Homo sapiens: one gene and its partners. Changing the gene in region 1 together with any one later gene gives a genetic interaction. Each region holds a gene or a part of one and is shown in the gene's direction. Other genes may lie near its edges. The genes, in order: GTF2E1, EIF3H, YTHDC1, CMAS, PPWD1, RPP38 and RRM1.

Evidence for each region.
Region 2: changes in GTF2E1 (region 1) and EIF3H together harm fitness more than expected from each alone (negative genetic interaction), as found in Homo sapiens cells (one large-scale study listed by BioGRID).
Region 3: changes in GTF2E1 (region 1) and YTHDC1 together harm fitness less than expected from each alone (positive genetic interaction), as found in Homo sapiens cells (one large-scale study listed by BioGRID).
Region 4: changes in GTF2E1 (region 1) and CMAS together harm fitness more than expected from each alone (negative genetic interaction), as found in Homo sapiens cells (one large-scale study listed by BioGRID).
Region 5: changes in GTF2E1 (region 1) and PPWD1 together harm fitness less than expected from each alone (positive genetic interaction), as found in Homo sapiens cells (one large-scale study listed by BioGRID).
Region 6: changes in GTF2E1 (region 1) and RPP38 together harm fitness less than expected from each alone (positive genetic interaction), as found in Homo sapiens cells (one large-scale study listed by BioGRID).
Region 7: changes in GTF2E1 (region 1) and RRM1 together harm fitness less than expected from each alone (positive genetic interaction), as found in Homo sapiens cells (one large-scale study listed by BioGRID).

What each region holds. Positions count from the first base shown.
Region 1 is NC_000003.12:120,776,984-120,781,647, forward strand, and holds part of GTF2E1 (general transcription factor IIE subunit 1), read left to right. Parts: intron 1-4,059; coding exon 4,060-4,487; 3' UTR 4,488-4,664.
Region 2 is NC_000008.11:116,657,589-116,662,252, reverse strand, and holds part of EIF3H (eukaryotic translation initiation factor 3 subunit H), read left to right. Parts: intron 1-3,272; coding exon 3,273-3,440; intron 3,441-4,664.
Region 3 is NC_000004.12:68,315,083-68,319,746, reverse strand, and holds part of YTHDC1 (YTH domain-containing protein 1), read left to right. Parts: intron 1-884; coding exon 885-921; intron 922-993; coding exon of another isoform or gene 994-1,017; coding exon 1,018-1,057; intron 1,058-1,165; coding exon 1,166-1,228; intron 1,229-3,298; coding exon 3,299-3,433; intron 3,434-4,664. UniProt on the Homo sapiens protein: Regulator of alternative splicing that specifically recognizes and binds N6-methyladenosine (m6A)-containing RNAs.
Region 4 is NC_000012.12:22,062,828-22,066,942, forward strand, and holds the end of CMAS (N-acylneuraminate cytidylyltransferase), read left to right. Parts: intron 1-945; exon of another isoform or gene 946-1,100; intron 1,101-2,293; coding exon 2,294-2,484; 3' UTR 2,485-2,841; downstream 2,842-4,115. UniProt on the Homo sapiens protein: Catalyzes the activation of N-acetylneuraminic acid (NeuNAc) to cytidine 5'-monophosphate N-acetylneuraminic acid (CMP-NeuNAc), a substrate required for the addition of sialic acid.
Region 5 is NC_000005.10:65,582,925-65,587,588, forward strand, and holds the end of PPWD1 (peptidylprolyl isomerase domain and WD repeat-containing protein 1), read left to right. Parts: intron 1-113; coding exon 114-295; intron 296-2,089; coding exon 2,090-2,171; intron 2,172-3,074; coding exon 3,075-3,257; intron 3,258-4,328; coding exon 4,329-4,472; 3' UTR 4,473-4,625; downstream 4,626-4,664. UniProt on the Homo sapiens protein: PPIase that catalyzes the cis-trans isomerization of proline imidic peptide bonds in oligopeptides and may therefore assist protein folding. May be involved in pre-mRNA splicing.
Region 6 is NC_000010.11:15,102,550-15,105,915, forward strand, and holds the end of RPP38 (ribonuclease P protein subunit p38), read left to right. Parts: intron 1-755; 5' UTR 756-765; coding exon 766-1,617; 3' UTR 1,618-1,708; downstream 1,709-3,366. UniProt on the Homo sapiens protein: Component of ribonuclease P, a ribonucleoprotein complex that generates mature tRNA molecules by cleaving their 5'-ends. Also a component of the MRP ribonuclease complex, which cleaves pre-rRNA sequences.
Region 7 is NC_000011.10:4,121,550-4,126,213, forward strand, and holds part of RRM1 (ribonucleoside-diphosphate reductase large subunit), read left to right. Parts: intron 1-54; coding exon 55-216; intron 217-591; coding exon 592-671; intron 672-1,633; coding exon 1,634-1,835; intron 1,836-4,664. UniProt on the Homo sapiens protein: Provides the precursors necessary for DNA synthesis. Catalyzes the biosynthesis of deoxyribonucleotides from the corresponding ribonucleotides.

The sequences.
Region 1 (4,664 bases):
TATTACCCTGACTTATATGCATTTAATTTTTCTGAATTGGGAGCCAAAACTATACGCTACCCCAAACTTTATGTTTTCTCTTCATAAATACCAAGGAGTGTATGCTACCTGAAATAGATACAAAGAGACCACATGAATAAAGGATTGAGCATTCTCACAGTCCAAGACGGTTAGCAGAACTTTGTTCTAGAGGATTTTGGAAATTTCTGAGGCATAAAGGGTTAAGAATTGCATACTAATCTTCGGAAGTTAGAGAACTGCAAGATTTTACTTTCTAAGTTTTAGTCTAAGTTACTGCATTCAAGACTTTGAGTGATGATGGTTTAGGAGTATGTAGAAAATGGGAGGCAAAAATGGATGACGATGACTCAAGCTGGAAAGTAGAGAGGAAGGGTGTCTCTATTTCTTGCTGAATTTTATCAGTGTAACAATCAATGTGCCGCTACTCCCAAGTTAATATATCATTACTAACATATCACGTGAGTTTGGTGATATGTTAGTGCCAAAGAATAATCAGTAGCTGAAAACCACTTGTTTTTTGGCGTTTCTCCTAGCCTCTTTTCCCTTCATAATTAGCATTTAGTATATGTATATACTAGAAATTGTGAAGGTAACGTGGAGTTTGGTAGTGATGGTAAAGCAGCTAATACCTCTACTGTGATTCTCTTTGATATATTAATTTTAATAAGAAAAGGTTTTCCAAGGCAACCATACTTTACCCTCCTTCTTCCTCACTGATTAGCCTGCCATGTTAGTTTTTTTGACGGAGTCTCGCTCTGTTGCCTAGGTTGGAGTACAGTGGTGCGATCTTGGCTCACTGAAACCTCTGCTTTCCGTGTTCAAGTGATTCTCTTGCCTCAGCCTCCTGAGTAGCTGGAATTGGGCGCAAGCCACCATGGCCAGCTAATTTTTGTATTTTTAGTAGAGACGGGGTTTTGCCATGTTGTCCAGGCTGGTCTCAAACTCCTGACCTCAAGTGATCTGCCTGCCTCGGCCTCCCAAAGTGCTGGGATTACAGGCATGAGCCACTGTGCCCAGCCTGTTGTGTTATTTAGATTGAAGTTGTTTTAGATTATACAGTAGTTAGGCTATACTACTACTTAATAAATTTGTTTTCCCCAACTTGGCTTCTTGCCTGTTCTTAAAGCAGCCTTCTTTTCTTTGAACTTAGGAAGAAAACTGAATAAAATAAAATTATTATTAACCAACATTATATATTAAGCTCATAAGTTTAACATTCTAGTTTACAGTTCCTAAAATGATAGAATATGAATCATATGGGCCTTAAATAAGTTATCTGGTCTACTTAAGTTTTGTAAATATTTATTTCTGCATAAAATAGGATAGTATGTTGTCATGTCTGAATTTATCCTAAGTTTCTTGATAGTAGAGCAGACTCTATCCAGTGAATGTATGAAGTGGGTCTTAACACTTGATTTTCCTCAAACTTCAAGTCATGTTGATATCTTTCACAATTGTATCGACTTCAATCATGTTCTCATTACTATACTGAAGAAAGTTCTAATTCCTTTTGATTCTGTTTTCCTTAAACAGTTCTCTTTTCCACTGCTGCCACCTCCTACAGTTTTTGTTTATTTTTGTCTTTTTCTGGACCATCTCTAATTGTAATATACTTTACTTGAGACATAGTGACCAGAATGATACATGTTGTTCATGCATGGATTCACCATTGATTTGAGTTTTATTTCCAGTATCTTTCTGGTTTTTACTTGAGATTTTGTTTGTTGCTTTGGTTCTGGAAGCATGTTAAGACCAAAAACTTCTAGAAACACGTAGAGGTACTTTTTAGGTTCTTCTGTGCCTTGAATCCAATAGCTTGGATCATATCTTTCAGTATATTTTAGATTATTTTTCTGCAGGCTGATTTTCTTGCACTTGCTGAAATAGAAATAGATCTGCTACTTTTCTGCCCACGTATACAACCTTCAGCTCTTCCTATATTTTTTTGCTGCAACTTGGCCTTTCAGTACCCACAATTGCTTAGCATCAATTCCGTGAATATAGTTTCCCAGTATACATCTTCTTTGTAATTTATAACTCTGTTGAAAAAGGCTGTTCCTAGAACCACTGTTTCTACTTTACCATCCAGAAATTTGCTCATTTATCCTTGTTTTTTGTTTTCTGTCTTCATCTGTAACAGAATAATTCTTTTTTCTCCAAACCTCTCAAGACCCTTGTCAGAAATCTGTTACGTGTGACTTAATTTAGTTTACAAAACTAATTTTCTTTTTCCCTAATTTAATACTTAAACATTAATCAAAATACTGTGTTGATATTATTAAACTATTTGGAACATTCTTTTAGAAGCAATTATTGTCTTAAAGGCTTGCATGCATTCCTTACCTTCTTTTCTTTCTGTTGTAGTGCTGCATTGGCAGTAAGCTCTAAGGAGGAGGTTCAGCCTTTGACAATATTTTGAAGTAGTTAAGTTTGATTTTAACTCTCATTTTGACAGTCATGTTATCAAAAGCCTCTTTTCTCTGACCTAAACTTTTAACTTGTCTGCTTCTGTTTCCCTTTCTCTCTCTTATCTGCTCAGTATCTCATTTTAGGAGTTCTGTGCCTTCTAAAATGTCCAGGGATTTAGCTAATTCATTTTAATGTGTTAATGAGAAGATGCTTTCACTTTATCCATAGTCAGAATTGACCATTTCTGAGTCTTCTCTTGATGACGATGATGATAGATAACACTATTCTAAGTGCCAGGCCCATTCTAGACACTTCACAGACATTCACTTAATCCCCACAGTAATCTAGTGAAGTAAATACTATTTTCCCCCTTTCTGTACTTGAGAAAATTGAAGCGGAGAGATGAAATAACTTGGCCAGAATCATACAGCTAAATAGTGTTAGGATTTGAATCAGGGAGTCAGGTTCCAAACAATACTTTTAATCTTTTTATGTATTTTAAATGGCAGTATGTTTGGTAGTAGTATCAGAATGCAGAATGCAGATGGTTTTCTTAAATATTTCATCTGCAGTATATCAGGTAAGATATGTACACAAAATGATAGGAGGTGTGTGGTGAGAGAAGCTTCATTCCTAAAATTAGATTCTTTTTTTATAAAGAGTTTTAAGTATGCTTAGTTTGCTTCATGAAAATAAAACTCACATTTATTCACTCATTTGTCAGATGTTTATTCAGTGCCTAACAGAGTGGCAGGTACTATTTAGGTAAATGGGATATATCCATGAATAAACAAGATAAATATCTGTTGTGGTAGAACCTACATCCTTGGAAAGGGGGTGACAAAGACAATAGATGTAAGTTATTCATTATGTTAGGAAATAAGTGCTATGGGGGAAAAATAGAGCATTGGGAATGTAGGGATAGGATACATTTAAAAGGTAACATTTGAATAAAGACATGAAAGATGGAAGGGAGTTAGCTGTGTGAGTACCTAAAGGAAAAATATTCCAGGCAGAGGGAACAGGTAATGCAAAGGCCCTGAGGTAGGAGTGTGTCTGATATGTACAAGGAATACCATGGAGGCTACTGTGGCTAGACAAGAATGAGCAGGGGAAAGAAGTAAGAGGTAGATGATCAGGAAGGATTCCAGATGATGTGGGACCCTATAGGCCATTGCAAAGCTTTTGGCTTTTACCTTGAGTGAGATAAAGAGCCATGTTTTGATTTTCTGTTATGCCAGCTACTCTAGTCGATTCTTCATAGACATTATCTTATATGTTTTTATTCAGAACCTTAGAAAGTAGATGCTTTTATCACCTCATTTTACAGAAAAAGGTATTGAAGTTTAGAGATTAAATAACTTGCCCAAGATGCTTGTGTGTAGAAGAACCAGGATTCAAATCTATGCTATAATACTCTTAAAGCCAATGTACTTGACCATTATGCTACTTAAGCTCCAGTTTGTAAGAAATATTTTGAATATTTTATGGATAGCAGCTCAAAAATGGAACCAGTGAAGTCTGTTATTTTATCGTATTATTTAAATATATGTTAAAATATTGTCTATATGCTATAAAGAAATGCCATTTATATTTAAGGATATTGACTTTCTGAGTTTTACTCCCCAGGGGGCATAGATATGGACGCATTTCAGGAGCGTGAGGAAGGCCATGCTGGGCCTGATGACAACGAAGAGGTCATGCGAGCACTGCTCATTCACGAGAAAAAGACTTCCTCTGCCATGGCTGGTTCAGTGGGGGCAGCTGCTCCAGTGACCGCTGCCAATGGCAGTGACTCAGAAAGCGAGACCAGTGAGTCAGATGATGATTCTCCACCCCGTCCGGCAGCTGTGGCTGTGCATAAACGAGAAGAGGATGAAGAGGAAGATGACGAGTTTGAAGAAGTAGCAGATGACCCCATTGTCATGGTGGCTGGCCGTCCGTTCTCCTACAGTGAAGTGAGCCAACGGCCAGAGCTAGTGGCCCAGATGACACCAGAAGAAAAGGAAGCATATATAGCAATGGGACAACGCATGTTTGAGGACCTCTTTGAGTGAGCTTTCCCTAATTCTTTCTCCTTTCTCTAATGCTCAGTTCAAAAAGGAATGTCTCATCTTTGAAGAAAAGTATTTAAGTGGCTTTCTGCCCCTCTTGATGTAAGCAACTGTCCATCCTTGTGCAAAGATTGATGGTAGAGAGTTTGACTTTTATGCCAGAAACTTTCCCAGCAAGGT
Region 2 (4,664 bases), on another chromosome or scaffold:
TTAAAATTGGGGTGGTAAGTCCAAACCAAGATAGAGAATCTCCTTCACTTTACATAGATTAGGCCCAACACATACATTGTTTATTAGTGAAATTCTAGTGCATTGTATATTTTTAAAGTGATTTTCTTAATTGACCAATCATTGCTCTTTAGCCTCTTTATTTTGATATTTAGGTGATATGAAAACTCTTATGACTTACAAATGTGTCCAAAATCTTGCAAAATCTTTTATGTCATATTCTAAACCATGGAAGAGGAAATGGAAATGCTCCCCTCATTTCCCCTAATAAAGAAGCTGATCTCTCTTTACTCCTCAGTCCCCAGAAATATGTTGGAGGAGTGGTATCTCCACACGGCTATAGGCTTTCTTGACTTTCTTCCCTAGTTTAGAGGAACGTTTCATTTTCATTCTTACCCTTATCAGAGGTGCTGTAGAATAGGTAAGACTCTGGATAAAGAAGAAATTTGGAAGTTTGCTATGGATCTTGGAGTTTTTTACCTTGTGTATCCTGAAATGCTGTTAGAGAATCTCTTGTATTCAGGCTATTTGAGGACAGACTTAGCAAGATTACAGAATATTTTTCAGAGGAATGTATTTTTATTTTAAATCATAATGCATGCTGGAGGCCCCTTTAGCTAATAGAAAATTCTTTATTTATAATTAGTATGTCCAGTGAACAATGTGGAATAATAGCGTTTTGACTGGGATTGGGTTCTCAGATCTCTTTGGAGATGGGAAAATTAAATATCAAAGAAGAATTATTAACTGTACAGCAAGATCCCCACAGGGGAAATCTCAGAGCTGGCATGAGAACCTCGACCTCTAGATTCCAAGTCTTTCTTTTCTGCTATTATAAGTTGGCAGACTCCAACCTCTTCTTATATTGTAGCTAAATTTTATACTAATACGTTGCATAAGTTTTGATTTAAAAATAATGTTTTTTAAAATCTTACTCGTTCTGTCAGTTGCTTAATCTCTCCTCTTCCCTTTCCCTTTAAAATAAATAGCAAATTCAGTTTCAGCTCCCATTTTACTTATAATACTGGGACTTTTCACTCATAAATTAAATTTGATTAAAATTTATTAGCCAAATCAGTGATTTTACTTTGATTTAAAAGAATTATGGAATTTCGAAACAGAAGGAGATCATAGCAGTGATTCTATCCCACTTGCCAAATTTATGTGGTTGATGTGAATCTGTTAAACTAGCTGGGGGGAGGTGAGGTTCCTCTTACATGCTAGAGAAATAAAATATGAAGATAAAAAATAATTGGTGTAAGATTATCATATTTCATACTGCTTTTTCGGCTGTCATATTGTGTATAAAATAGGTTTCTAAGGTAGTGATGTTTTTAATGGTGGTTTAGAGTATAGCATAGGTTATATGACTTTGATTTTGTATTTTATTCATAAATATACAGAAACACTGGTTTGGTATACAAAGTGTCTGGTGTCTGGTATCTGGTGTCTGGTGTCTGGTATCACCTTCTCCCCCATACCCTTAGTAGCCTAACTTCCTCTATATTAACACTTTTTTTCCTTTTTATGAATAAATGAGCCCACTTTCAAAACAGGCACTTAAACTGTACATCTTTACAGTAGTGCAGTTTCCAGCTCTGTTGCAACATTGCCGTAGGCTTAAGAAAGTCTCTTCAGATAGTGGCAAAATAACTTTGGTTGTTTTTGTTTGTTTGTTTAGCTTTTCTACATAGCAAAAAAAAAATCTCAAAAAACACGCAATTCTTGTGTAGTTGATGAGTTGGCTGCCATCTTTTAGCATGAGAACTGTAACCTTCCTTGGAATAAGCAGATTTATAACTTCTTCTCCTACAAGTAATGAAAAATCAGACTGTGTCCATCTGAGGAACACTCTTTTATACTTTATGATCCTGAGTCTTGTAGGCTTTGTAAAACCATAGTGGTATAACCAAAAGAATGACAGATATATAACTTTTCTTTTGCTAAAACCTGAGTAAGAATTTTGAAAATGAAACAGGTTTCAAGTTAAGCAAATACGTTTACTCAGCATGGTCATGTATTCATTATAATAGAAATAGTTTGGGGCTGGATGCAGTGGCTCATGCCTGCAATCCCAACACTTTGGGAGGCCGAGGTGGGTGGATTCTTTGATCCTAGGAGTACGAGACCAGGCTGGGCAACATGGTGAAACCCCATCTCTACAAAAAAACAATACAAAAATTAGCCGGGTGCGGTGGTTCACACCTGTAGTCCCAGCTACTTGGGAGGCTAAATCAAAAGAATCACTTGAGCCCGGGAGGCAGAGGTTGCAGTGAGCCAAGATCAGGCCATTGTACTCCAGCCTGGGCAATGGGAGTGAAACCCTGTGTCAATAATAATAATAATAAATAATAATAGAAATAGCATGGCTATTATGTTGACTATAAAGTTTTCTCCTGTATTATATATTTGCTGTGCATTATTGTGCTATATTGCTTTTTAAAATGTCGTTTATTATATTGCTAGTTTTAATCTGTTTTTCTGGTAATACTGCTTTAATATAGTATACATTATAGTCATTACTATACTTTGTAGTCATTAATTTGACAAAAGTAAAAGTCACTAAACCTTTTCATTCTATACATGGTCATTAAAATATAACTTTATTCTAAGGAAAACATAGTATCTGTTACTTAAAGGAACACACAGACAAGAAAAAATAATTCTTTAAAAAATTTAGCATATGCAGCAGGGGGCACCAGATGAAGGCAAAAATGTACTCTTACATTTTGAATCAGCTACAGCCTGTATCCTCTTCATATATAAGCAGTGTGGTTGGTAGTTGTTTCTCCTTAGTTTTCCTAATGGTTTTAGTTTCTCAGCTCTAAAAGCTGTGTTGAAGAAGAGATTGATAACTCTTCCTCTTTTATTAATTCAAATGAAACTTCTTACAACCAACCAATTTAGTAATTACACAAATTTTTCTTAAACATTTACTATTTTGAGAGTTTCAAAAAGGGGAGTTAGACGCCACATTTAATAATTCTTTGGTTAGAACAAGGTATTAATATTGTGTGTAATACATTTTCTACAAAATATTTTTTCATTAAAGAATAAAAGGAAACCCCTGATGATTTAAAAGCCTAATTTTGTTTTGCTTTATATGTGAACTGAATGAATTTTAAATCTGGAATCCTGTTCCCTATTGCTAATAAATTGTTATGTAGACATTTGTTTCCAAAACGGCTTGTTTTTGATGTTGGTAACATCATTAAAAAGTTTTTTCTTTTAATTTCCTCTTCCCCATCATCCAGTCCAATATCAGATGGAAATGATGCGGAGCCTTCGCCATGTAAACATTGATCATCTTCACGTGGGCTGGTATCAGTCCACATACTATGGCTCATTCGTTACCCGGGCACTCCTGGACTCTCAGTTTAGTTACCAGCATGCCATTGAAGAATCTGTCGTTCTCATTTATGGTTAGTAGGAGGTTTATTATTCTTTTTTCCCTTAATATTATTACTACTATTTTTGCTTTCTGTCCTTTTTGCCTCTAAGAGCAGTCTGGCAGGCCTTCTCAAGTAAATACCAACCCTGTTTCTGCAGCAGCCTCAGCAGCAGCTCAGTCTAGACAGGGTTTCCTTCTTTCTGTTTATTTTTCTTGCTATCAGAGCCCTGATGTGTACATTTTGGAATGCTGGAGTAGCTGCTTCATTTCTATTCCTCCATCTCCCCTCCCTCATTGAAGGGGCTGGTGGAACTAGACCAGATGTCTAACAAACCCCGATTGCTAGAGTGTCTGGCTCTGTACGTGACTGACCAATCATAATACGGTGTGCCAAGTTTTTTTTATACCTCTGACAACAGCGTACAAAACCTGGACTGTTTCTTAGCACAAAGATTTTTTTCTTTTCGGCCTATTTAATGGTGTTTCCTCAAGCTCTCCAGACCAGATGTTCTGTGCTGTATCAGAACTGTAGGCAATTTAACAGCTTTATAGCCTTCCCCCTCCCCAAACACTCACAGTTTGCCATATCTGGCAGACTTGCATATAGTTTCCAGCTGAGAAGTAAATGTAACGTCCTGAGTATCTGTCAGAAAAAATACTAATGAATACGATCAATCTTATGAGCTGCCCCAAAATTGTTTCAGTATGTTAACAATTGGATTACAGTAAAGAACAAGTTGTTAAAGTATACTTATATTGGCTGGAAACATTGCATCATCAGACCTTGATGAATTTTCCACTTGTTTCAATCTATTTTGGTTTTCATTTTATCACCTATTGCTAAAAGTTTCACTGTGTTAAGTTTCAGACAACATGAATGTTAACACAGGTTTTAGGCGAATATTGGCATGCCAGAGCCGTTATCATGCAGCAAGTGCTAAGCTCCCTTACTCATGGAGTGTTTCAGCGGTTAGCTTTGACAAAATTAGTTTCTCCAAAACCAGAAAGACACTTTTGTGATAGCAGTTTGACTTGAATGGTTTTGTTTTTACAATCTGTTTTAACGAAGAAATGTGAACAGTGATTATTAGGATTGATAAATTTTGTGTGCGGGGCTATTCATTTTAAGTTGAATGAGGAGCTACCCAAGTACATGCAGTGAATTTTCATGTTTAATATTTATCAGTGATTTCCTAATTATACAATATGTCTAGAACATATGATACATTTAATTTTCAGCAAGGTTACTAGTTCT
Region 3 (4,664 bases), on another chromosome or scaffold:
GCTACTTTTTTTAAATAAAAATCTTTATGTCTTTGGAGAGGAATGGGAAATACTCGGTATGTAATCTAAATGTAGCTTTTCAATTAATCTATCCCTTACTGAAATTTAAGAGAGCAAACTATATTCAAGAAGGGATATCATGTATTTGAAGAGAGTCAGTGATACACTTGTGAAACTTAGGCAGTTAGGAGATTGATGTTAGTGATCATTATAGCACTATTATGTAACAAGTGGCTTGATTAGCCTCATTCTTCCAAAATAGGTTGTCCTGTTGTAGAAAGTGAAAATAGTTTTTCCCCAGTAACATGACTACTCAAATGTTTTTACATTTTAATTTGTTGGGTTCTTATTAAAAGAAGCAGGGGAAAGAATATTTTTCTAACCACCATCGATTTTTCATTTTCAGTGTATACATCTTCATTTTTGCAACTTTTGCAATTTTTTCCCCCTCCCCCTTAAGTTTACATTTTAAAAAGCTTATCTGTGGTTTTCTTGGTAAGACCTACATATACCCAAGGTGGAAAGTAAACATTTGTTTTAAGGAAGTCCTGTCATAGTGTGCTCAAGATAGTTCCTCTGCCCTTACCTTCCCTGTGAAGCAGAAGGAAGAAATTTTCTGATTAGCAAGATTTGGAGTGTGAACATAGAAGATACCTATCTGAAAGCTTCTCTAGCAGTTTACAATTCTATGATATCATTAGTTATTTCCTAGATTATCATGTAATCTGAGAAGAAAATTTGAAAATGGGATAATACAGTAGTAGCATCACTTAAAGTACATATTTCATGGAAAGAATTGAAACGAGTGGTAAGGAAGGTTTAATTATAATGCCATAAAAGAAAAATATAAATTTGATTTACTAAAATGCTTGATGTTTGAACAGGGTATTTAAAGGATCCACGATACCAGGAAGTGGACAGGTAAGTCGGGTTCACTCTTGCCTAGTTTTGAATTACATTCTTGGAACTAGTTTATGAATTACCTGAATTTAGTTTCACAAATCTTATTCCCAACAGACGATTTTCAGGAGTTCGCCGAGATGTGTTTTTAAATGGGGTAAGCATTTCATTTTATCTATTTAATGTGGATAAAATCAGGCTCTGATTTATTTTGCAGTTCTGTGATAATTTTTAATTATATTGACATTATCATCTTTTATTTTAGTCCTACAATGATTATGTGAGGGAATTTCATAACATGGGACCACCACCACCTTGGCAAGGAATGGTTTGTATTATTCTATTTTTATAAGTTACATAACTTAATTTGCAGTTCTAGTATTTCAGGTGCTTACTCGGAATATGATTGTTACAGTTACTCATTAAAGAGACTTAAACTGGCCAGGCGCCGTGGCTCACACCTGCAGTCCCAGCACTTTGGGAGGCTGAGGCGGCTAGATCACCTGAGGTGAAGAGTTCGAGACCAGCCTGGCCAACACGGTGAAACTGAAACCTTGTCTCTACTAAAAATACAAAAAACATTAGCTGGGTGTGGTGGCGTGTGCCTGTACTCCCAGCTACTCGGGGAGGCTGAGGCAGGAGAATTGCTTCAACCCAGGAGGCAGAGGTTACAGTGAGCCGAGATTGCGCCACTGCACTCCAGCCTGGGCAACAGAGGGAGACTCCATCTCAAAAAGACTTAAAATACAGATTTTTGATGATAAATAATTGTATGCTGTCTTTCAAACTAAAGACTAAAAGCTCATTTGTGTTAATAGTACAGGCTTGAGAACTGTAATAGTGTATTATGGTAGTAATTAGTAGTGCAAAGTCCGCTTGGGTTCAGATATATTTCTTTTTCTTCCCAACTCTGTGACTTTGGGTTAATTTCTTAATACAACTCTTAGTTTTCCTCATCTGTAAAATTCCATGGGCATTCACTGATGCTTTGTCTTATCAAATATAATATTTAGTACTTACTCTGTGCAAGGCACTGTGCTTGTTCTGATTATATCATGGTGAATGAAATTGACATCATGACTGTCCTGGTATAGCTTAAAATTTAATGTAGTAGTGTCATTTTCATTGTCAAGATAAATTTACAAAGTACATGTTAAGTTTAGCATAGTGCCTGATCTAATACTCACTAAATTTTCTGTGTAAAATAAGATTAATTAAACCCTGATTATTCCTGCTTTTTAATTATTTCCTTTAAGAAAACTGAATTGTCTTAGAGTATATTTTAAGATATTGAAGATAGCTGAAGCATTAATTTTCAAGAAATAAAAACCTGGAAGTTGAAGTAGCTTCTACTGTTTTCTTACATTTTAATTTATGTCTTTTTTTAAATGCAATATGTTATATGGCCTCTTCATCTGACTTTTGTTTCACTTTTAAGGTATACAGTTTTATACTATTATATGCAGATGATTATGAGACTTTTCCCCTTTAGATTCTAGGAAATTTTAAAAATTTAATAATATATGATCTTGATAGTAACTATGAAAGTAATCTTTAATTTACCCTTTATTCATTTTTTAAATGGCATTTAAAAGTTAATTTGCTCCTGGACTTTTTTTTTGAGAGACAGGGTCTCATTCGGTCTCCCAGGCTGGAATGCAGTGGTGTGATGATAGCTCTGTGCAGCCTTGAACTCCTGGGCACAAGTGGTCCTGCTGCCTCAGCTTCCTGAGTAGGTGGGACTACAGGCACATGCCACTGTGCCTGGCTAATTTTTTTATAGAGACAAGGTCTCACTCTGTTACCCAAGCTGGTCTCCAACTCCTGGCTTAAGGGATTCTTTTCCCTCAGCCTCCCAAAGCACTGGGATATGGGCGTGAGCCACCACACCAGGCCTGTTGATGTTTCTAAGAACAGATACATACAAAGTGGTTAACCAGTTTACCAACTGCAGAACTAGGATGCCTGATGCCGTATGCCTGCTTCACCACTTTAACAGTAGTGTGACTATAAGCAGGTTACTTAACTCCTTGTTGCTTCAGTTTTCCCTTTTGTAAACTGGGAACAATAGTATCTATCTCATAAGGTTGCTGTGAGAATTAAATGAGACTAGTAAAGTGCTTAGAACAATGCCTGGCTCACAGTAAGCACCATGTAAGTGTTTGCTATTTCCATTGTTATTTATATGATAGGAGTAGAAAAGCATAAACATGTTAAATCTTAGAAGATGTGTAATTTTCGACAAAAAGCATATTTTGAAACACCTTAATGCCATCAAAGTAAATGTCTAGTACAGATTCACTTGTTTGGGATTGGTGTTTTGGATGAAGGGTTCTAAGAATCGCTTGTTTACAAGGGTGTTGGTAGATTCTTAATGTAAATGGTTTTCCTTTTTTAGCCCCCTTACCCAGGAATGGAACAACCTCCACACCATCCTTACTATCAGCACCATGCTCCACCTCCTCAAGCTCATCCCCCTTACTCAGGACATCATCCAGTACCACATGAAGCAAGATACAGAGATAAACGAGTAGTAAGTGCACAAGGAGGCAAAGGTGTGAGGGAACTACTTAGAATTCTGTAGGTAACTTAAATATGGGGAGACCAGAGTATGATGATTGACGGACCATTGCATATTCTTACTGCAGACTGTTTTGGAATAATTGTTTGTTTTTATTAAAAATGCCTGATTATGCCCCTTTGGATTATATAGATAGAATATATTTCTTTTACTGATCAAATCACAAACTGCTTAAGGCAAACGCCTACAAATAGAACTCCTTTTAGGTAGTACCTAGGCTATGTTCTTTCCATATTGAGATCTTAATTATGCTATGTAATTAATATTGTTAATAGATATTTCTGAACTTTTTGTGTATTCTTACTCAATTTTTCTAGGATAGATCGTGTATATTAAGTTAGCTGATAAGCTGTAATCTCATTTAGTCATTTGTTTTTATTTCTACCAAATGTTAAAGCTAGTAACTGATAAATTGTTTTACCTCTGGTTATTGTGATGTTAGCAAAGAATAACCAGATGTTATGATATGTAGCAGACATGTCCTTTATTCATTGATTCTGTTAATTATTTGATAAGATTGATGTGAAAGCTTTTTTTGATGGCTTCAAAACAGGACCAGTGAAAAAAAGACTCTAGTTTTAGTTTGAGTTTTCTGGGTTTTTAACTAGTGGGGCTGAGTTTATTAAATGCTTCCCCACCCCCCCCAATAGTACTTTTATTTATAAAGCAGAATTGTCTTCTGGCAAGTGTTGGAAGCATAATTCATATGCATATAAGTTTGATAGCCTTAGAAAGGTAGTTTTGTTGTTAAACTAAGTAGGATATGCAAGTTAGAATTTTTTTCCACTCCCTACTTAGGTTGATGAGTCTGTATGGGGCCAAATAAACATCTTTTTATTTTCCCACTTAAGATGAAGAGTGGGCCTATTTGTGAGAATCAGAGCAGCTTTCTAGCCTATCTTTGAGACATTTTTTTGTGTTGTCAGTAATTTCCTTATAAAGATAGTAATTTTCTCTAAATCAAATCTTATCATGACTTCTAACATTCTGTAAAATAATTTGAGAGTACTAGTTAACTAATTCACAAACTTTAAATTAGTAGTTTATTTTCAGTTAAGCACACAAGAAAGAAATATACAGTCTATCTATAATGAAATCTTAGTTGACTAGATGGGTTGTGGTGTCTTAAAAATTCCCATAACTGATCACATGGCTTTTAAAATAGGAAGTCTGAGATTTTTTT
Region 4 (4,115 bases), on another chromosome or scaffold:
GAATAGTTTTTGCTGCTAATTGAATGTACATACTTTTTCCTCCAAATTCCAATTCCAGGAAAGAAATGAGACAAATGGGCCAATAGTGAAGTTAAAAGAACCCACTTAAATGTCCTGTGAAAAATAGAATATCCCTAAAAAGGATTACTATGCAACCATTACAAACAGTGCTGTGACCTGTATTTATTTGCATGATCAAATATAACAATGTTTTTCACTTGGATATTAAGCAATACACTTACTTACCAGGTACCTATGATGATACGCAGCATGGAACTGGTTGTGGGAACTGTAGGCTTTCTGCTTGCAGAGCTTACAGTCTGATGATGTCAACATTTTAAAATTGATAAGTTATTAAGATGCATAATAACTATAAATCATGTATGAAAGCAGTATTTACAAGGGTAATATGAGCCTCAAAATAAGAAGCACAGGAAAAACTTTGGGAGCATGTGATCTAGAGACTTCAGGAATAACCCTTAAACCACACATGAAGATTTAATGGACATAAATGCTGCAGAATGTTTGTTAAAGACAGATCCAATTTTTATTAGAAGAAAATTTTAGTGGAATGTATAACAAATTCCAACTATACTTATTATCTTTCTTTGGGATGTTAAGCAAGCTTCTGTATACCTTAGTTTTCTACTTAGAATATAAACACAAACCAAATTTTATAAAGCCATTAGAAAGAAAAACAAAGATAATATAAAATGCTTAACATAGTGCCTACAGATAGTAATAAGTGTATCATTTATATAGGTAAAACTCTAGAATTATATGTGTCAAAATGTAGTGATTATCTACAAATAGTGATAATTAGGATGATTGTGACTTTTTTGCTTCTATTTTTTAAAAAAATATTTCTACCACGAATACGTATTACTTATATGACATTAAAAAAAAAACACACACACACACACTTTAAAAGGAGAGGTAAGAAAATGGAGAAGAGCATTTACATTTTTATTTAAAACTCACAGCAGGCCAGGCATGATGGCTCATGCCTACAATCCCACCACTTTGGGAAGCGGAGGCAGGCAGATCCCTGGAGCTCAGGAGTTTTAGACCAGCCTGTGAAACATAGTGAGGCCCCATGTCTACAAAAAAAAAAAATAATAACTCACTCACCAATGTTTTATATGGGTGACATAAGTGTATAAAAATATATTTCTTAAAAAAATCAATACTTTTATAAGTAAAATTTAGTAAATAGAGCTTAAAGGCTGGATTATGCAAATACTAACTTTTTTTATTTTAGTGAAAACGATTCAAATTTCAACACATTTAATAATAAATGAGAAAATTTCAGTAGATAAGCATAGAACAAATGTAAAAGAAACTCTCTTCAACCAAGATTGTACTATTGTATGTGGTCTAAAGTATAGTAATAGTTTTACTCAGAATGGTGAATTAAAGATACTGGGAGCTTCTGAAATGCATCCTATTCCAAAAAAGGGGTTAACAGAGAGGGAGGAAAAGGATATCGTTATGTCAGTATGATTTAGTATCTATTTTTATTCTTTAAAAATGGTAATTTTTCAGCAACTATTAATAAATGGCATACCAATCAGAACCATTACAGATTAAAAGAGATTTAAGAGATTATATATATATAAACAAAAGACCATATGTTAACCTTATTTCATTCCTGATTCAAATAAGTCAGCTATAAAAGGACAATTTTGAGACAGCTGGGGGTATCTCAACATATACTAGGTTATTAGAGGATATTAAGGAACTATTACTGATTTTGTGGGTTTAATGATATTCTGTCAGATAAAAAATTATATTTATCAGAGATAAATATTGAAGAGTTTTTGGATAAAATATTATGTCTGGGAATTCCTTCTTCTCCCTTTCCCCAAATAAACTAGGGGGCAGTGCATAGAAAACAATATTACTAAGTGATTTTAAATTCTGATAATTTTTCAATATAAAATTGGGGTTCTCGCATATGTTTGAAATTTTGCTTAATGAAAAATTTAAATAACTTACTTAGAATTCATATATAAAATTTCTAACATTTGTAATATGCATGGCAGGTAGCAATTATGCTCCATTCTTCTTCTCTAGCTCATAAGAGTTTATTTTTGATTGCTTAGGGAAAACCCTGGACCTCAATTATACTGTAAAATATTTTTGTTCCATCTAATCTTTAGTATTCTTATATGCAGTGCCCCTAGGTCTTACTGAAGTTGCCAGAGTTACCTGTTGGTTGCTGTCTGCATTATTTAGCTAGAATATTCTTTGTCTCTTTAAATGTTTGCTCAGTATTTATTTTACTTGATAGGAAATGAAGTGTCTGATGAAGAGTGCTTGAAGAGAGTGGGCCTAAGTGGCGCTCCTGCTGATGCCTGTTCTACTGCCCAGAAGGCTGTTGGATACATTTGCAAATGTAATGGTGGCCGTGGTGCCATCCGAGAATTTGCAGAGCACATTTGCCTACTAATGGAAAAGGTTAATAATTCATGCCAAAAATAGAAATTAGCGTAATATTGAGAAAAAAATGATACAGCCTTCTTCAGCCAGTTTGCTTTTATTTTTGATTAAGTAAATTCCATGTTGTAATGTTACAGAGAGTGTGATTTGGTTTGTGATATATATATATTGTGCTCTACTTTTCTCTTTACGCAAGATAATTATTTAGAGACTGATTACAGTCTTTCTCAGATTTTTAGTAAATGCAAGTAAGAACATCATCAAAGTTCACTTTGTATTGTACCCTGTAAAACTGTGTGTTTGTGTGCTTTCAAAGATGTTGGGATTTTATTTATCTGGGGACAGTGTGTATGGTAAGACATGCCCTTCTATTAATAAAACTACATTTCTCAAACTTGATGAAAACTGCCTTGTTGCTCTAGAAGAAATTTACCATGCATTTTCTTTCTTTCCTTTAAACATTAACCAATCTTAGTGAGAAACAAGCCACTCGATGCCGGGGTAGAGCATCTGATTGTACTTCACATATGTATACGTAACAGCATATGGTCTATGTGGGGGTTGGTTCCAGGACCACCCACATATACCAAAATCTGTGCATACTCAAGTACCACAGTCAACACTGTTGAACCCACATATACAAAAAGTGGGCCCTCCATATACTGCATGATTCACATGTATTTTTGATCTGCACATGGTTAAAAAAATTCACATAAAAGTGGACCACACAATTCAAACCCATGTTGTTCAAGGATCAGCAGTATACACAAATACAAATATCCAAATAAATTTATATATTATGAAGATTATGTATTTATTTGGAGGAAGCAAATTATTTGCAGTTACCCCTGAGAGATAATGGTAATTTTGCATACAGGAATATCTTAGAGATATTACGGGTTTGGTTCCAGACCGTTGCAATAAAGCGAGTCATAGGAATTTTTTGGATGCCAGGTACATAAAATGTTATGTTTAAAGTAAACTGTAGTCTATTAAGTGTGCAGTAGCATTATGCCCAGATAAACAGTGTATATACCTTAATTTTAAAATATTGCTTAAAAATGCTAACAATTACCTGAGCCTACAGCGAGTCAATCTTTCTGCTGCTGAAGGATGTTGCCTTGAACAGTGGTGGTTGCTGAAGGTTGAGGTGGCTGTGACAGTTCCTTAAAATAAGACAACAATGAAGTTTACCACATCAATTGACTCATGAAAGATTTCTCTCTAGTGTGTGATGCTGTTTGATAGCATTTTACTCACAATTGAACATCTTTCAAAATTGAAGTCAGTTCTCTCAAGCCACTGCTTTATCAGCTACATTTATGTAATTTTCTAAATTATTGGTTGTCACTTCGTGTTCATAGCATCTTTACCAAGAGTAGATTCTATCTCATGAAACCACATTTTTTGCTTATCTGTAAGAAGCAACTCCTCATCCATTCAAGTTTATCATGAGATTGCAGTGATTCAGTTACATCTTCAGGCTCCACATCTAACTTCATTCTCTTACTATTTATACCATATCTACAGTTACTTCCTCCACTGAAATCTTGAGCCCCTCAAAGTCATCCATGAGGGTTGGAATCAACTTCCAAACTCTCATTAATGTTGATATTTTGACCTCCTTCTATGAATCATGAATTCTGTTTTTTTGTTTGTTTGTTTGTTTTGAG
Region 5 (4,664 bases), on another chromosome or scaffold:
TGATGTGAATTCTTACATTTCTTAAGTACTTCATTAGAAATTCTATTGTTCATAAAATTTTTACCAGATGAAAACTTTAATTCGTTGACTCACTTTTTACTTTCCTCCTTGAGTTTACCAAACGAGAACCAGAAGATACGAAAAGTGCAGATTCTGATCGAGATGTTTTTAATGAGAAACCTTCTAAAGAAGAAGTCATGGCAGCTACTCAAGCTGAAGGACCTAAACGAGTTTCGGACAGTGCCATTATCCACACCAGCATGGGAGACATTCACACCAAACTTTTTCCTGTTGAGTATGTATAACAACTGTTTTTATTGGCTTATGTAATTAAGAATGTAAATGTGTATATCTGAAGAAACCATGCAACTTAAAATTCCCGTTACTTTGACTTAAGGAATTTTGAAGAAACGTTTGATAAAAAACATCTATTCCTGAGCTTTCTGATAAGTGTTACGGTAGAAAATGGGAAATTTTTATGCATATATACTTTATAGGTTCATTACGAGGACAAAATGTATTGGCTATGAAAGTGCTGAGTGTAAACTGTAAAGTGATACACAAATGTGTATCACTGTTACTGTTAACAGCACATCTGAACTCTAGGTTTTGTGGATTGCTTTGCTTTCCTCTCAAAGCAAATCCTTAAGAGAAAGATAATTATGTTTCCTTACCAACAGTTGCTAGATACCTACTATCTCTTTATAGTTTCAGTAGCTCTGTGTTTTAAAAGTGAACTACAAGCTGGGTGCAGTGGCACGCACTTGTAATCCCAGCTATTCAGGAGGTTAAGACAGGAAGATCAGTGGAGGCCAGCAGTTTGAGACTAGCCCGAGCAACACGGCAAGACTCTATCTCTTAAAAAAAATTTTTTTTTATTAGCTGGGCATGGTGGCACGCACCTGTATTCCTGGCTATGCTAGAGGCTGAGGTCAAAAGATGTCTTGAGCTCAGGAGTTTGAGGCTGCAGTTAGCTATGGTCAAACCACTGCACTCCAACCTGGGCAACAGAGTGAGACCCTGTTTCTACAAAAACAAATTACAACAAAACCGTAAGGGCTTCAATTGAAAAAAAGGTGAACAGTTTTCTGGACAGTTTAAAAGACTGTAAAATTAACATACAATGTCAAATACAGTAGAGTATCTCTGGCCATTCTTGACCCAAAAAATGACATCTTTTACAACACTTTTACTTAAAAGTTCTTATTTATTAACATTTTGAATATGAACGTTTTATACCATATCTTGGTACTCAACAAATAACTAGGCAGCTCTAGACTCTTGGACAGTCTCACTTTAAGTGCTCAAAACCCATGTACTCTTCGGCCTTGTTTGCTGATGTACTTGGGTACAAGATTCTCTTGGTTCGTCCATTTCCAGCTCTTAGAAGTATTACATGGTAATGAACCGTATGAAATAATTGCATAATTTTCAGTTAATATTATTGAGAAAGCTTCGTACTCTGAGTGTGATTGTCATTTAAAGTTGAATAAATTTAGATGTCATTTCTATGATTAAGGTTTTGGCCAAGAGTATGTCGCTGTAGCATAACAATGCTTTTGTAAGAAAATGACCTTTCCCAGGAACTTAACCTATACTACTACATGCAGACCTATAATACTATATGGAGTAAACTAACTTAAGATATTGGGCCAGGTACAGTGGCTCAGGCCTGTAATCTCAGCACTTTAGGAGGCTGAGGCAGGAGGATGTCTTGAGTCCAGAAAGTCAAGATCAGCCTAGGCAATATAGTGAGACCTTGTCTCTTAAGAAAAAAACATATTTTTAAGGTGCTATGGCTGTATTTTTTTTGACTGCTAAATGACCTTGAAATTTTAATACTGTCAAACTCAAATATTAGTTAAGCAGTCATGTTCTAAAGATAACTAAGTTGAACAATAAGAATATACTACTTACATGACCCTCCGTGCTTGTCCTGAGATTAGAGATTATGAAAAAAAAAAACAACTGTCCTTCTGAAACATTCAGAAGACATGGAAAGGAAACATCATTAGGAAGCAGAACTGCAAAGAAAACTGTTTTAAGATGCTCTGAATAGGTTTCATATTTGTAACATATGTCTTAATAGGTGCCCTAAGACAGTGGAAAACTTCTGTGTTCACAGCAGAAATGGTTATTATAATGGGCATACATTTCACCGTATAATTAAGGTAAGTTACATAAATTTCATGTCATATAAGAAATACTGTATTATTACATAGCAAGAGATTTAAGCGCAAGGAATCTTCTTCTCTCACACTTAATCAGTTTAGTGGAAAGGAACAGGAAAAATACACTATGGAAGCCAAAGGAGGAGTGGATGGTCATAAATATCAACATCTAGAATCAACAGGAATAGTGGCATGATTAGAAACACTGAAGCAATATTTTGTCAGCAGCTAAAGTAAAGGGTAAGATAATGAATAAAGGGTCATGCTGAGATTACATCAGTAACCTAGGTAACCTCTTTGTCGTGGCTAGATAGGGTCTAGATCTAGAAGATATGATTTTTCAATCATAGAGGAGCCACAGTGCCATCTGATCTGTGAGAACCTGTAATATACCAGAGGAGGAGAGAGAACTCAGCCCCTGGATTTTGTTGAGCAGCTTTCCATAAAGTGGATGGGGCACTGATACAGTGCTTGGTTTCTGGCAGGTCAGAAACGGCAGGATGAAAAGTCAGATCTCAGGGTCCTAAAGGAATTAGCGAAAAGGCTTTCCAGGAAATCCAGAGTATTTGGGGAAAGGGAGAGGGAGAAGAGGAGGGCAATTATATAAAACATAACATACAGATCCTAAAATTGATAGTATTAACTGGCTTTATTTGGGTTATTGAGAAAGACAGAACATGTCTATAAATGAGAAGACGACCTTTGCATTTATGTTTCAATCAAGGTGGTGGTTGGGCAATGGAAATACATCATCCAAATTTAAGTGTTAAGGGTTTAATCAAATCACTTTATAGTGACAGTTAATATTACACTGAATACAAAGCACTCTTGGCAGAAATAAAACTTCAAAGCGTACATATATCGAAAAGGACAATGTAATGTTTTTGTGTACTTTCTGTTAAGGGCTTTATGATTCAGACTGGAGATCCAACAGGTACTGGTATGGGAGGAGAAAGCATATGGGGAGGAGAATTTGAAGATGAATTTCATTCAACATTACGACATGACAGGCCATACACACTCAGCATGGCTAACGCGGGATCAAATACTAATGGATCCCAGTTTTTCATAACGGTAGTACCAACGGTAAGTACAGTATCATTGTTTATAAACTACAGATTGATAGGTTATGATGTAAGAGAGTGAACTCAGTAGAAGAGCTGCATTATTCTGTATTTTCTGCATTATTTATATCATCTAGCAGAATACAAATATGAAAATGATCAAGAATATAAAATTATGTGACTAATCAGTTTAGAATTGGTAAAACAATACTGCCACTGTAGTAAGAAATACAATGGACTACGATTCAAGATACTTGAGTTTCAATCTCAACTCTGCCTCTACTGATGATGTAACCTAAAATAAATTATTTCACTTCTGTGAGCCTATTTCCTTGTCTTTAGAATACAAAGATTAGAGTATATGAATTCACAATTTTGAGACAATTTCCCCCACATTTTAGTATCTCTGAAATCAGAATACATTAGATTTGATGAAATACAGTATAAGGTAACCTAGCTCTATTGCTATGCCATAACACAAAATTATAAAAATTACCTAGTTTTTGTTTTGGAATTAAGCACTAAGTGATGAAGAAGGGAAAAATGTAACTACCATCTGCCAGGCACATAGTTTTATGTAGTATTCACAGTACTTCTACTATCAGTATCCCCAGTTTTCAATAATAGATGAAGAAACAGTGAGACATGATTAACTTGCCAAAAGGTCAAGTAGCCAAGCTAGCATTTGAACTCCCACCTGTCTAATGCCAAAGTATGTGCTGCATAAACTATTTCAAACTGCCTCTGAATAAACTGTTCAGGTAAGAGTCCTCCAGAGACCTTTTAAAGCCTTAGCCACAATTCTGTAAGCCATGTGAAGTAACTTACCTTTAGGGAAGATCTTCCAGTTCCCTTTGGTCTGAAAGATGCAGATATTTAATTAAACATTATACTATGCTTCTATTTTTTTTAACACACTGGAAATAACTTTTAAAAGCTGCTACATTTTTATTGCTGAGAAATTATTGTACTTCTTTTTAAATATATGCTAAAGGGGAGCGTAAACTTAAATTCTCTTTAATTTGCTCAACCAGAGGATATAATTTAAAGAAATTGGGGTTTACCAAGATTTTCCATTTGTCCTCCAACACAGCCTTGGCTTGATAATAAGCATACAGTATTTGGACGAGTGACTAAAGGAATGGAAGTTGTACAGAGGATCTCCAACGTCAAAGTCAATCCCAAAACAGATAAGCCCTATGAGGATGTCAGCATCATAAATATTACTGTCAAGTAAAATAAGATTTGTTTTAATGTACTTGCAAATAAAAATACAATATTAAACAGATTATTTTACATTAGGAAGCTTAGGACTTGCTGAATATACAGATCATGTTTCAAAGATACAGTATTTTTGTATTTTTTATTAAAGGCTATTTTTTAAAAATTACCTTTGACTTTTCTCGCAATATTTCTAATCCTGGGAGGT
Region 6 (3,366 bases), on another chromosome or scaffold:
GTTAGAAGATTAATACCATACAGTCACTAGAAGGTTAATTATGAACAAGTAGAAACAGAATATTTTTAATAAATGAAATAGACAAATGGAATTGTACTATGATTGCAATAATTAAAACTTTCACATATTGCTTGTATAGGAATAAAGACAAAGTCATATAAAAAAATGGGGAAAATTAAACACTACTCACCCATAGTCCTGAGTATTTTAAAGAGCCTTCGTAGAGCATTCAAAATCGGGTAAGAAAAATGGGGAAAAATAAAATTACTTAATCTTTAAAAGGAAGACAAGCGTATGCTCACCTAATTGGACTTATATAATCAGGCTTGCTCTAGCTTATCCAGAATCAGAGTACAGGCCGGGCGCAGTGGCTCATGCCTGTAATCCCAGCACTTTGGGAGGCCGAGGTGGGTGGATCACCTGAGGTCAGGAGTTTGAGACCAGCCTGGGCAACATGGTGAAACCCTGTCTCTACTAAAAAAAAATAGAAACATTAGCTGGGCTTGGTGGCGGGCGCCTGTAATCCCAGCTACTCGGGAGGCTGAGGCAGGAGAATCGCTTGAACCCAGGAGGTGGAGGTTGCAGTGAGCTGAGATTGTGCCACTGCACTCCAGCCTGGGCAACAAGAGTGAAATTCTGTCTCAAAAAATAAATACATAAATAAATAAGAATCAGAGAGTACAGTCAAGATATTCTTAAGTCATGCAGTTGTCGCTAACATGAATTTTTTCTGTTGTCATTTTGCTTCTTGGAAGGATTTTCAAAATGGCTGCAGCTCCTCAAGCACCGGGGCGGGGATCTCTCCGTAAGACGAGACCTCTGGTTGTGAAGACGTCGTTGAACAACCCATACATCATCCGCTGGAGCGCTCTGGAGAGCGAGGATATGCACTTCATCCTACAGACGCTTGAGGACAGGCTTAAAGCTATTGGACTTCAGAAGATTGAAGATAAGAAGAAAAAGAACAAAACACCTTTTCTGAAAAAAGAAAGCAGAGAGAAATGCAGCATTGCTGTTGATATTAGTGAGAATCTGAAGGAGAAGAAAACAGATGCTAAGCAGCAAGTGTCAGGGTGGACGCCTGCACACGTCAGGAAGCAGCTTGCCATTGGCGTTAACGAAGTTACCAGAGCCCTGGAAAGGAGGGAACTGCTGTTAGTTCTGGTGTGTAAATCAGTCAAGCCTGCCATGATCACCTCACACTTGATTCAGTTAAGCCTAAGCAGAAGTGTCCCTGCCTGTCAGGTCCCCCGGCTCAGTGAGAGAATCGCCCCCGTCATTGGCTTAAAATGTGTTCTAGCCTTGGCGTTCAAAAAGAACACCACTGACTTTGTGGACGAAGTAAGAGCCATCATCCCCAGAGTCCCCAGTTTAAGTGTACCATGGCTTCAAGACAGAATTGAAGATTCTGGGGAAAATTTAGAGACTGAACCTCTGGAAAGCCAAGACAGAGAGCTTTTGGACACTTCATTTGAAGATCTGTCAAAACCTAAGAGAAAGCTTGCTGACGGTCGGCAGGCTTCTGTAACATTACAACCCCTTAAAATAAAGAAACTGATTCCAAACCCTAATAAGATAAGGAAACCACCCAAAAGTAAAAAAGCTACTCCAAAGTAATCTTGCATAAACTTGTCATGTCATACAGTTTGTGAAAGGACACCTTGTAAAGAAGCCTTGAAACTAATAAAATGAGTTATACTTACATAGATTCATAGGGTCCTGTTTGGTAATATTCAAATGTGTAAGACTCTTTGTAACTATGGCACAGATATACTAAGTGCAGGAAATATTCAAAATTAGGAATAGCCAAACAGACATTTATTGAAACTAGTGTTCATGCGTGTGTAAATTGACTTTTTCTTTTTCTTTTTTTTTTTTTTGAGACAGTTTCACTCTTGTTGTCCAGGCTGGAGTGCAATGGTGCGGTCTCAGCTCACTGCAACCTCCTCCTCACGGGTTCAAGCAATTCTCCTGCCTCAGCTTCCCAAGTATCTGGGACTACAGGTGCGCACCACCATGCCTAGCTAAGTTTTGTATTTTTAGTAGACACGGGGTTTTACCATGTTGGCCAGGATGGTTTCCGTCTCTTGACCTCGTGATTTGCCCACGTCAGCCTCCCAAAGTGCTAGGATTACAGCTGCGAGCCACCGTGCCTGGCCTTTTTTTTTTTTTTTTTGAGACAGAGTTTCGTTCTGTCGCCAAGGCAGGAGTGCAGCGGCGCAATCTCGGCTCACTGCACCCTCCACCACCCAGATTCAACGATTCTCCTGTCTCAGCCGCCTGAGTAGCTGGGATTGCAGGTGCCCACCACCACACCCAGCTCATTTTTTTGTATTTTTAGTAGAGATGGGGTTTCACCATGTTGGTCAGGCTGGTCTCGAACTGACCTCGTGATCCACCTGCCTTGTCCTCCCAAAGTGCTGAGATGACAGACGTGAGCAGCCGCGTCCAGCCTAAATTGACTTTTTCAAAGGCTGGTAGAGTGCCTGTGAGCAAGAATATCTGTGTCATACAACGCTTAGCATTTTCCTATCAAACCTGGAAAATGTACCACAGTAAATGTTCTAGTCAGTCAGGTAGATGGAACTGAATTGGGGAAGCATTATCAGTTTTAAAGGAAAGATCCCAAATGCCAAGCAATCCATTGTCTTCAGAAGCAACACATCATTTTTCACTTCATGTCAATTTGACTTTTAGGAAGGAATAGACATGAGCTTGGGAGAAAGACTTAATATTTAGAGAAAAAATATCAAAAATATAGAAAAAGTCAGATAAGGTTATTTTGACTGGGTACAGTTCACCCCCATTACGTGATTCACTTACCTCCTTGGAAATCTAACGTATAAAAGGTATGATGGTAATTGGATGAAATGTGGCCAAAAGATTAAAAAAACTGAGGAGCTTGGGTTCTCAGAGGTGGGTGTGTGACAAGAGTCCTTCAGGTTAGGAGATGGAGCATAACCGATGCTCTGTTAGAGTGTCTGCTGTTTACAGTGTGTATGGAAAAGTTACTTTCTGTAATTTAGAAGGAAGGTATTTACTAAAGATTTTTCCAGCTGAAAGTCTGGCTGACTCATGGATTATGCCATCTCTCGATTTAAATTTTACTTAGTGCCATCTTGGCCAAAAAGAAGAAAAAAAGATACCTTATTGAATAGAACATTTTCATTATAGACAAAGTACAGTACAATGCAGTTTTAAATCTACAAGAAACTATCCATTGCATTTCAATTTAGTTTTAATAGCTACTTCATAAGCAAGCAGTTTAATTCTCGAAAATGTTAATTAGTAATCTGCTTCAATTATGGAGGCAAATGTAGTTATTATTCTATTTAAAAGTGGTTAATAATTTGATAACAAATTATG
Region 7 (4,664 bases), on another chromosome or scaffold:
TGTTTCTTTGTTTCATTTTTATTCTGAAGAGAATTATGATTTATTTACCACTAGCGTCCTGGGGCATTTGCTATTTACCTGGAGCCTTGGCATTTAGACATCTTTGAATTCCTTGATTTAAAGAAGAACACAGGAAAGGAAGAGCAGCGTGCCAGAGATCTTTTCTTTGCTCTTTGGATTCCGGATCTCTTCATGAAACGAGTGGAGACTAATCAGGTGAGAGATAGGTACTTGTTGGTAATAGCAACTTGATTCACATGAGCTTTCTCTTTTTTAGTCATCTTAAGTCATGCTTAGGAAGAGCCCATATGTGTGTGATGCCACAGAAGGCATTCTGAACAAGTTAAGAGATGCCGTGCTTGTCTTCTTATATTTCTATTCTCTAAAGTAGATGCTTTGTGACCTAAATGCTTAAAAGGTCATGTATAAACAGGCAGACCTAGATGTTTGGGCCTGAACCTGAAAATGATTATTTCTACAGCAAATTTCCAAGAGAGCTTGTAAAAGTCACCTTATGCTTGCAGTGTTTCTAATGGATTATGGTTGGCTATTTGAAGTTTCTTATGAGTGATTTTGTCCTTTCCTTTTTAGGACTGGTCTTTGATGTGTCCAAATGAGTGTCCTGGTCTGGATGAGGTTTGGGGAGAGGAATTTGAGAAACTATATGCAAGGTATGGGAAAAATATGAAAGAAAACAATAATGTTTTAATCATGGTTTCTCTTATTTCAGGGGTCCAAATATCAAAAGTACTTGTCAAGAATCTTTTGAAGCATCTAAGAGAAAAAGTGACTAATAATTTTGGTCAGATTTGCTTCCTGACTCTTCACCAAAATTGAGTTGTGTCTTCTTCTTTCTTAAAACTTTGGAATGTATAAATAGGTTCTTGGGATTTTTAATTGATCCTTTTAAAATTTAAGATGACTAGTAGGGTTATTATTTTGCTCTGTCATATAGTACTTTTGATAAGCTATGCTTTATGTTGCATAAAGGAATCATGAGTGACTAGGACACATATGTCAGTAGTTTATTAAAATTAAATAGGTCAGGTGCAGTGGCTCACATCTGTAGTCTCAGCACTTTGGGAAGATGAGGCAGGTGGATCATTTGAGGTCAGGAGTTCAAGACCAGCCTGGCCAACATGGTGAAACCCTGTCTCTAGTAAAAATACAAAAATTAGCTGGGCGTGGTGGTGCACACCTGTAGTCCCAGCTACTTGGGAGGCTGAGGTAGGAGAATTGCTTGAACCTGGGAGGTGGAGGTTGCAGTGAGCTGAGATTGTGCCACTGCACTCCAGCCTGGGTGATAGAACGAAACTCCGTCTCAAAAAAAAAAAAAGGAAAAAAATTTAGCACAGTCTTAAGAGATTTGGCTTCCTTAGTTTTTACTCCTTTTTATTATGAAAGATATTATTGGTTTAGTGGGATTGCGATCATCTGAAGGCACCTAAAACTGCCTCATTTTCCCCTATGGCTTTAGCTAGAGTAAAATAAATATCATATTCCTTTTTTTCTTTAGCAAAACTTAGAGAAAATTTAAGAGTTTTCATAACTTTATATTTTAATGTCTTCAAGTTGTCTACAATAAAGTTTTTTTAGGGAATATATATTAAATAATATTATCTGTGCCTTTCAGTTATGAGAAACAAGGTCGTGTCCGCAAAGTTGTAAAAGCTCAGCAGCTTTGGTATGCCATCATTGAGTCTCAGACGGAAACAGGCACCCCGTATATGCTCTACAAAGATTCCTGTAATCGAAAGAGCAACCAGCAGAACCTGGGAACCATCAAATGCAGCAACCTGTGCACAGAAATAGTGGAGTACACCAGCAAAGATGAGGTAGGTAGAAAAAATTCTTCCTAGAGTACTAAGAAGAGAACCTTAGGCAGTTATTATTTGTGAATTCCTCACTTGATTTCACTTGAGATAAGTGAAGGGAGTTTGCATAGTTGTAAGCAGAAGAACACTGTTAAAGGCAGAGAGCAAAGGAAGGAAAGGGTATGATCTGTGCCTATAAATGTTTTTTAGTCTAAGCCGTGTGGGAAAGACACAGTTTTTTCTTATACACACATCACTGTAATAACATTTACTCAAGAAAAATAGAAATATACAGTTATGTTAGTTTAGGACACACACAAAAATGTGTTAGGATGTACATTCAATTTAAACTATGTAAGCCTTGAGCCTGGAAAGTGGAGGCTGCAGTGGGCTGAGATTGTGCCACTGTACTCCATCCTGGGCGACAAAGTGAGACCCTGTCTCAAAACAAACAAACAAAAAACCAAAAACAACAACAACAAAAGTATGTAAGCTTATAAAGAGAGTCCTTTCAGTGAATGGTGAGATCAAATTCTAATCTCAAGTCTGTAAAGAGACTTCACAGAAGAATCAAGGCTAGAAATGGGACATGGATTTGGTGTTTTAAAAAAAAGTTTGAGAGAGGAGCTTTCCATTTGGAAAGAGTGGTCTGTATGATACACCAGAGACAGGGCTGGGTTTTATGCAGTGTGGCAAGTAAGTCTGTTTTGATGGTGCAAGTAGATTAATTATTGGAATATGGAGAGATGGCTATGGCTGGGGGAAGGGAGATAGAAGGTAGAAGCTGACACGTCACGGATAGGTAGCCCTTGTAGGTTTCTGAGAGGAAAATAGCATCAAAATGTTAAGATGAAAAGGAAGGTTCTTGCTTCTGGTTACAGAGTGTCTTGCTGTGAGAAGGGATTAGAGGTTAGCCTAGGGAGATTGTTGTACTAGTTGGATGACAGGCTGCTTTGATCTTGGATGTAAACTATGGAAACGAGGAAGGAGTAGATCCTCAATTCTAGGACCTTAAAAAAAAAGACAAATGAAAAGTCAGGAAGTAAATGGAAAGTGAGTTAAATATACTGCTAAGGTTACAGTTTAATTCAAAATTTATTGTGCAGTAGCTATATGTAAAACACAATGTTAAGTGCTCTGAGAATATAAATAAATATGCTGCCCTCTGGAAACTTCTAATTTAGTTGGAAGACATCGACATATATTGAGGTAACTATTATGCAAGACAGATTATATTATAGAGGCTAGAGTGACATTTTTAAAATAAAAATCAGATAATGTCATTTGTCTGCACAAAACTACTCTTTGGCTTGCTAACCCATGCAGAATTCCTTTTTTTTCGGGGGGCGTCAAGATTTCACTCTGTTGCCCAAGCTGGGCTGTGGCTCACTGCAACCTCAACAGAGTTCTTTCTTTTTGCAAATTGAGCTATAATTCACTCTTTTTAAAATGTACAATTCAGTGTTTTTTTTCTTTTCTTTTCTTTTCTTTTTTTTAGTATATCTGCAAGTCTGTGCAACCATTACCACTATCTAATTGTAGTATTTATTTATTTTATTTTTTTTTTTTTGAGACAGAGTCTTGCTCTGTCACCAGGCTGGAGTGTAGTGGCTCGATCTCGGCTCACTGCAACCTCCGCCTCCTGGATTCAAGCGATTCTCCTGCCTCAGCCTCCCGAGTAGCTGGGACTACAGGCGCGTGCCACCACACCCAGCTAATTTTTGTATTTTTAGTAGGGACGAGGTTTCACTATGTTGGCCAGGATGGTCTCAATCTCTTGACCTCGTGATCCGCCCACCTCAGCCTCCCAAAGTGTTGGGATTACAGGCGTGAGCCACCGTGACCGGCCTGTAGTACATTTTTATCACTGTAGATAATGAAACCCTTTATCCATTAGCAGTCACTCCCTGTTCCCTTCTTCCCTCAGCCCTTGACAACCACTAATATATTTTCTGTCTCTAGATTTGTGGACATTGTGGACATTCCATAGGAATGGAGTCATATAATATGTGGCCTTTTGTGTCAGGCTTCTTTCACTTAACATGTTCTTTTATTCATGTTGTAGCATGTATCAGTACTTCATTCCTTTCCATCCAGAGTTCTTACAGTGCCCTACAAGGTCCTACACAACTGGATAACCCACCTCATCTGCGGTTACTTTCCCCTTTGTTCACTTTGCTCCAACCCTATTAATTTTCTTGCTTTTTCTCAAACATGTCAACCATGCTCCTACCTCAGGATTTTTGCTCCTTCTTCCCTCTTGAATGTTAAAATGCACCCCCTCTTCCCATAGCCACATGATTTGCTTTCTAACCTGTTCAGTTCTTTGTTCATATGTAACATTTTCAATGAGGTCCTTCTTGACAATTCTGTTTAAAAATTATACCCCCTTCATCTTTATCCCCAGTACTCTCTGTCTTCTTTTCCTGCCTATTTTTCTTCCTGGCATTTATTAGACTTCTGTGATTCAAGCTATATTTAAAAAAATGGGTATTTGGCAACATGTGTAGAATGGAGTAGATGTGAAGGGCATCAAGAGTTCAACTGGGAAACTTTCAGTAGTCCATGTGAGAGAAGTTAAGACTTTGGCTTGGGATAGTCATAATCAAAATGGAAAAGAAAGTGTATTCATTCAACATTATCAAGACTTACTGTGTGCCAGATGTGTTGCTAGTGCTAAACATATAAATATAAATAAGATGATCCTTGTGTGAAGAAGCTCACTGCCTCGTGTAGTGGAGAAATCACTGGAAGAGCTTTTTCAGAAATCACAAATTGAGATCCATTGTTGCTAAGGGCTTGTCAGAATATCAGTGAAGGTGAGGTGGACGTGTGTGTTTTGAAGAACTC